Linked DNA regions of Homo sapiens. The protein of the gene in region 1 interacts with the protein of each later gene in a biochemical or structural test. Each region holds a gene or a part of one and is shown on either strand. Other genes may lie near its edges. The genes, in order: ASB7 and CEP152.

The links.
Region 2: the proteins of ASB7 (region 1) and CEP152 interact in a test that uses a peptide from one of them, tested with the Homo sapiens proteins (one study listed by BioGRID).

What each region holds. Positions count from the first base shown.
Region 1 is NC_000015.10:100,608,816-100,612,636, forward strand, and holds part of ASB7 (ankyrin repeat and SOCS box protein 7), read left to right. Parts: intron 1-891; 5' UTR 892-1,013; intron 1,014-3,350; 5' UTR 3,351-3,401; coding exon 3,402-3,612; intron 3,613-3,821. UniProt on the Homo sapiens protein: Probable substrate-recognition component of a SCF-like ECS (Elongin-Cullin-SOCS-box protein) E3 ubiquitin-protein ligase complex which mediates the ubiquitination and subsequent proteasomal degradation of target proteins.
Region 2 is NC_000015.10:48,804,426-48,808,246, reverse strand, and holds part of CEP152 (centrosomal protein of 152 kDa), read left to right. Parts: intron 1-2,590; 5' UTR 2,591-2,597; coding exon 2,598-2,684; intron 2,685-3,821. UniProt on the Homo sapiens protein: Necessary for centrosome duplication; the function also seems to involve CEP63, CDK5RAP2 and WDR62 through a stepwise assembled complex at the centrosome that recruits CDK2 required for centriole duplication.

The DNA.
Region 1 (3,821 bases):
AGAAGTGGACTATACCAATTTGGATTGGTTGAAAATTCTGGTGTGCAGCCAGCAGGACATACAACTGCTGCGGGCCAGGTTGCTAAGTGGCCCGACCTTTTCTTGTCTGAAGGTTTAAGTGATGCTCACCCACCGTCAGGGGATGAGGTAGTAGTTCTCCCAATATGTAATTCCTAGAGTTTTATGTGGAAGTCACTTTGTGTCCTTAACTTTGTTGGAATTAACAGAGCTGGAATTTAATTGACACGAAGAAAGATCCCTTTTCTTTTAGTTGTGGAGAGAGTTTATTCAGAATTCACATGGGGAACCTGGCAAGGCTGTTGTTAATGTTTTATCTAGTTCGGTGTATGCATAAAGGAATAACAATTTCAAAGTGATTGACTTGATGCCTTTAGGGCACATGAAGAAAATGCATTTAAAGACACAGTCTCCTTTTAGTTGTCATAGATTTTATTTTAACCCAGGCCACCTATTATATTTCATGCACACGTATTCTCATTTAAGTCCTGTTTAGAAAGTGCAGGTGACTTATGGTGTCGGTTAAAAAGTAATTCAGATAAAGCAAGTCTGAAACTGTATTCTCAATAGAGGAAAATGAAGAATCTATGCTTGCATCCAAATTCCAAATATGTGATTTATTATTTTTTTTATTTGCTCTTTCTCAAATAGCTGCATTTTGGGGGGAAAAGCCTGAAACTAAATAGTATTTATTGGAGATGAACATATGTAACAAGATTATTTTCTGTAAGAGTTGATCTGAGTTCTTTCTCTGCTCTATAGATTTATTGTAAAGCACTGAAGTTTACATTCATCAAAAGGTAGACTATGCAGACAGCTATGATTATTATTTTAAGGAATTTTCCTATGATTGTTATTTTTATTTGTTTCTAGGTTAAGAAGGCTTTTTTGCTCTGTAGCCTGGACGTACTTTGAAGCCCCTCCCCACGATGCTGTACGTGCACAATGGTTACTAGGCAATCCGTACATCAGGAGAAGGGACACTCTTCCATAAGGCAAGTTGCCTCAGGGTCATTGGTCATCTGTGTTGTTCCGGGGGAAAGCTCACTTAACTTTTACTTCTCTCTTAAATCAGTTAATGTATACTAAATACACCACTCACTAAAGAAAACCCAGGTTTGTTTTGATATTGTTTCAGTCTTTTTCTTGCATGGTAGGCCTCGTTTAAGTGCCAACATAATCACTTAATTAAAAAGAAAAGCTGTTAAGGATGATTGTGAGCATAGTATGTTTCCATTAATTCCTTCAGACGGTCTTCAGCATTTTCTCTCATAACAGAATAAGCAAAAACCTATTCTGAAAGGATTCTCATTTTAAAATTTCTAAGAAGGGACAATTTTTGTGAAGGAATTGAGAGAAGAAATAAGAGGCAATCTTGTGGCCGGGCGCAGTGGCTCACGCCTGTAATCCTAGCACTTTGGGAGGCCGAGGCTGGTGGATCACGAGGTCAGGAGATCGAGACCATCCTGGCTAACACGGTGAAACCCCGTCTCTACTAAAAATACAAAAAAATTAGCCGGGCGTGGTGGCAGGCGCCTGTAGTCCCAGCTACTTGGGAGGCTGAGGCAGGAGAAAGGTGTGAACCCGGGAGGTGGAGGTTGCAGTGAGCTCAGATCGCGCCACTGCACTCCAACCTGGGTGACAGAGCAAGACTCCGTCTCAAAAAAAAAAAAGAGGCAATCTTGTTTATTCCCATATTTCTCTGAGGAAATAGCTATTTGTAGAAGTAGCTTGATATTTTTAAATTTGAGCACTTAGTTGTGATACTTAGGAGTAGGTAATGACACCATTTTCTATGTATAAAACAACATAGGATATTTGTATTCTTAAGTTGTAATGATTTGACTTAACCTAGGCCTAAGTTTACTTTTGTACAGTCTATAGTAAGTTTTGCAAGATAAACGATTGTTGGTAGCAAGATTATCCTGATATGTCTAACCTACATATGAGAACAGAAATGTCTTTAAAGGGCTTCATCACAGTTTAAAAAATGTTTAGAAACAAAGGGACTACTAGTTAAGAGATGAGTCTAATCTATTCCTTCCAGTTAGCACACCTGGAGTGGCTTTCTGGAAGCTTGTTAGTTTTCTGTATGTAGTTAAAAGCTTAAAAACACACTAAAAATGTTTTTGTATACACACATGTAAGATGCAACTTTTTACCATTTCACTTTGGACTGTTACTGTTTCCATGAAGGAGGTCTCATTTTACTTTCTTATTTTAATTTTTGAGACAGGGTCTTGCTCTGTATCCCAGGCTGGAGTGCAGTGGCACAATCACAGCTCACTGCAGCCTCAACCTCCCAAGCTCAAGTGATCCTCCTGCTTCTACCTGCCGAGTAGCTGGGACTACAGGTGCACACTACCATGCCTGGCTAATTTTTTAATTTTGTATTTTTTTGTAGAGACAGGGTCTCACTGTGTTGTCCAGGTTGGTCTTGAACTCCTGGGCTCAAGTGGTCCCTTTTTCCTTGGCCTCCCAAAGTGCTGGGATTACAAACGTGAGCCACTGTGCCTGGCCAGATATTTCATTGTATGTTGGGTTTTAGTACAGTCCTTTTTTGTGACCTATTAGAGAGTATGAGAATTCACTGTACTACTTTTCCTTTTAGTAATTTGATCATGTGGTTAATCACCAGATTGTTTCGATTCTTTTTTTTTTTTTGAGACAGAATTTCACTCTCTTGCCCAGGCTGGAGTGCAGTGGCGCAATCTCAGCTCAATGAAACCTCCACCTCCCGGGTTCAAGCAATTCTTGTGCCTCAGCCACCCAAATAGCTGGGATTACAGACATGTGCCACCACACCCGGCTAATTTTTGTATTTTTGGTAGAGACAGGGTTTCACTATGTTGGCCAGGCTGGTCTCAAACTCCTGGCCTCAAGTGATCTGCCTGCCTTGGCCTCCCAAAGTGCTAAGACTGTAGGCGTGAGCCACTGTGCTTGGCCTGATTGTTTAGATTCTTAAGGTTTTAAAATATATTGCTACTTTTTTTTTTTTTTTTTTGAGATGGGGTCTTGCCCTGTGGTCCAGGCTGGAGTGCAGTGTTGCTATCATGGCTCACTGCCGCTTTGATCTCCTGGGTTCAGGTCGTCCTCCCACCTCAGCCTCCCAAGTAGCTGGGACTGATCCCCTGGGCTCAGGTGATCCTCCCACCTCAGCCTCCTGAGTTGCTGGGACTATAGGCTTGCACCACCACACCCAGCTAGTAGTATGCACTGTCATTAGTAAGGTTTACTGATGTAGCAAATGGAATGTTCTGTGATATTTAATAGATGCAGTATCAGGAACCAGTTATTCTAAATTTTACCTTTTCTACCTTCTCTTCTTAAAGGCTGATCCCCGTAACCTAATGAATCCTTTGTAAAAAGTGGACTCAGCTAGGATGTTACACCATCATTGTCGAAGGAACCCTGAGCTCCAGGAAGAGTTGCAGATTCAGGCCGCGGTGGCTGCTGGGGATGTCCACACAGTGCGAAAGATGCTAGAACAAGGCTATTCCCCGAATGGCCGAGATGCGAATGGCTGGACTCTGCTTCATTTCTCTGCAGCAAGAGGAAAGGAAAGATGTGTTCGGGTTTTTCTAGAACACGGAGGTGAGTTTTGTAGAAGCAAATCTTTTTCCCCATGGAGAAACATAAATGATGTTTAGTTTAAAATGTGTCTATTTGTAATTTTTAATGCTTCTCTTCTGTTAATACTCAACATATTATTCTCTCTCCTTTGTGAAGATTTGCTATAAGTGTGCCTTTTTGTTTAAAACCAGATTGTTTAAAAGATCAGTTTTATGAATGGATTCTTTTCC
Region 2 (3,821 bases), about 52 Mb from region 1:
TTGTTGTTCTGAATATTATACTAAAGTCTCTGGTAGCAGTGATAATGAGTGGTGATTAATAAGTTAAGGTATTAGCTTTTATTTTAAGTCTCATTTAAAATATGTATTACCTTTTTACTATATATATTTTTAACCACATTAAGTTGATCAGGTTTCCCTTTATGTCTGAAATCATTTCTTAAAGTCTTTTATAGTTTATAGTTCTGATAAGGAAAACTTATACCTTCTTCAGTGGGGGAGATTTTGGTCTTTTCAGGTATTTTTAGATGTCTTCTTTAATGACATGTTTTGAATTTAAAATAACATTAAAGATATATACTTTGATATTTTACATTCTCTTTAAAAACAAAACCCTAAGTATTCTCTATCTGAGAAAAAGTAGCTGTCTATTTAAAATATTAGTAGCTACATTTTTAGCAATAGGCTCTTATAAATCTTAATGTTCTTTTTCAATAATCAACATCAGTTGATGGCAGGTTAATAAAGGATGGGAACAAACCTCTCTTCTCTAACTTAATGAAGGAGAAAGTAACCCAAATTCCATATTTCGTCTTGTATTTATATTTGAATGAAAGAAAGGTAGAAGACACAGAATTCAGAAACAGAAAGGATTTTTTCTGCCTGGAGGATTCAGGAATTTCTTTAAGGTCCAGCTTAATTTCATCTCTTTTTTTTTTTTTTTTTTGAGACGGAGTCTCGCTCTGTCGCCCAGGCCGGACTGCGGACTGCAGTGGCGCAATCTCGGCTCACTGCAAGCTCCGCTTCCCGGGTTCACGCCCTTCTCCTTCCTCAGCCTCCCGAGTAGCTGGGACTACAGGCATCTCTTTTAAGGACATAGGATTTAATTGGGCTAGTATTTTCAATATATATAGTGTTCTGTAGAATATTAAGTCTATTTGCATAGTGGAAAAAAATCTAGAGACATGAGATTGTGTGTTTTTCCCTCACCATTTCATGTTACAGGCTTTTTATCATATTCATATCTTCATCTTATGTTGACATACAAAAGGATTCTTATAGATAGATTTATTTTCCTCGATATGCATGTCTCTTCCCCCGTTTAGCCCTGTCACAAGGGTAGAAAGGAATAGGTGTGGTCTGAGAAGCAGAGGCTGGAGGGTTTTAAGTTGAGGTATAGTCTGAGTTGATATGAGTTTAAAGGGACGGGTTGGGTGTAGGGACCAGAGAGGAAGGGATTAGAAGGTAGACTGCAAATTAGAGGTTGGCCAAGAAACATAACTCAGTCTTTGAAAAACAAAAACTTGTCATAGGGGGATTTTTACCACTGAAGTTCATATGTATGTTAATCTTTAATACCATATTCATCTATTCTAGCTTGCATATTTTCTTTTCACACTTTAATATCTACAACATAGACTGCGTCCTAAAATTAATGTTATGTCATAATTTGATTGGCTACATCTCGTTCCTACTGCTACAAATGGAACTGCATCATAGAATCAAAGACATCTTAGATCTGATGAAATGGGATATTGTCTGCTCTAGAGCTATTGGCTTCCACAAAAGTTTGTGATATAGTTCGTATCTGTTAAGACGAGGGAGCTAAGTTCTCTATGGTAAAATGCATTTGGATTGCTGGGTCTCCATGCTTCTGATTTTACTTCCAATTTAATGACATTTTAGAGCTTGAAAGGTGTAGTGAATGAGTTGTGGCTCAGGCTCACATCCAAGTGCGTTTCATTGGCATGAACAACAGTGGACTGAATGGAGGGCAGTGTTAGGCCAGGTAATTGATGACACCTGCCTACTTTTTTGTTGTGATTGTTCAGAGCTTTGAAGTTCTGAGGAGTTTATGTATAGTGTCAGGATCCCTAAGTACAAGTTAAATCAGCAGCAGCTTTTTTGAATGTAAGTAGTTGAAAACCCATTTCCTGCTGCTGCTTCTGCCGCAGCAGTCACTGCTCCCCAGGGAACTCTTGCTGTTGCTTTTGGAATTGGAAGTCCACAGTGGTGGAGCTTCACAGCCTTCACTTCTGTTTTTCCCGAGTATATTGCCAGAACCTGATTTTATCAAGCTTAAGAGGAGGACATTTAAGACTTATATTTTGTTGTGCACTCTATGGCATTGACTGAATTGTAAATGGTTTCTGGGTAGTAGTCATTCACTCATGATTTAGGGGCCTTCTTCTTGTAAAGCATGATATTTGGATTTCTGATATTAAAAAAAAATGAAGCAATAGGGTACTGCCTGTGCCATGTTTAATATATCACATTTGAAGTTTTGTTTGAGCTTAAGATTTTTACATTTGGCACATTTCTAGTTTATTATTATTGTCATCTTATTTTTCATGTCGGCAAAAATCTTACTGTTTTATACTCTTCAGACCACTAGAAAGGTCTATTCATAGCTTTATTACCTATTTGCATGTTTTCTTTTCCATGAATTGCTGTCATATAGCTATTTTCGGTGAATCACCATTATTTTTATTGGCCATAACTGAGTTATACATATTTTCTCCCAGTCTGTTTCTGTCTTTTCACTTTGTGTATGTATGGCATCTCTTATGTAGTTTGTCCTGGGGAGATTTTATGTGGTGTCCAGAAACCAAACATCTTTCCCTTCCCACAGGAGGACCATGTCATTAGACTTTGGCAGTGTGGCACTACCAGTGCAAAATGAAGATGAAGAGTATGACGAAGAGGACTATGAAAGAGAGAAAGAGGTAAGTTGTTAAAAAAAAAAAAAAAAAGAGACACTAAACCCAATCTTTAACAAGTTTTATTTCTTGATCAAAATTGTATCATCTTGTGTCATTTTGAAGGGATTTGGATTTTTTAAAAAAAAAACAACCCTAAAATCTGCTTGCTATTTAGACTGAAAAGGTGAATAAGTGGAATGCTTCTGTTTTTGAGACAGGAATAAAACACAACTGTGAATAATACCATCAGATAAATGGTTAAATTTTTCTTTTCATTTAGGAGGTAATGGTTGGCTTTGGAAGTGGAAGGTTAGTTTCTAGGTGCTTGAAACATTGCCATGAACAAGTCTGACAAGGCTCTTTGCTTTGGGTAGTTTACATCCTAGTGGAGGCAGACAATAAACAAGTAAACAAGTGAGTAAAGTAATTTGAGTGAGTGATAATTTATCATTGATAAATGACAGGGAAACAAATTGGAGTGCTATGAAAGCAATTGATAGGGGATTGCTGTAGATGGGGTGGTGAGGGAGGGTCTGTGGGAGGAGGCAATATATGAGCTGAGACTTGACTCATGAGAAGGAACCAGCCATGCAGAAGCCTGAGGAAGAGCAGTCTACGCCAAAACACCAATGAGTGTAAGCTGGGAAGTTGGGAAGAGACCCCGTGTATGCCACAGATCATGTGGAGCGGCCAGAAGGCCATGGTATTGGGTATATATGAGCCAGTGTTGGGTGGTGGATGTGGGTGTCAGATCATGGAAAGCCATGATAAGGTGTTTGTATTTTATTCTAAGAACAATGGGAAGCCAGTGGAGGATTTTAAGCAGGGAAAATTGATATCATATTTTTGAAGATCTTTCAGAAGGCTGCATGGTGAATAGATTATAGAAGGAAAGGAATAAAAGGGAGAGACCATATTATTTATATGTAAAGTGTTTAGCAGAATTCTTGGCACATAGCAAATGTTCAGTAAATGGTGGCAATAGTAATAGCAGCAGTAATAGTGTTATTGGTGGAAGTCAATTTAGTTGTTTTGGTTGTTTTTAGTGTAAGTCAAATTTCTTGATTGTCTGTGATAAAAGGCTTCTTTTGTCCTGACGCTATTTTTTATATGACCCATTTTCTAACATGTAAAAAAGTCTTTTTTAATAGTTATTGTGGA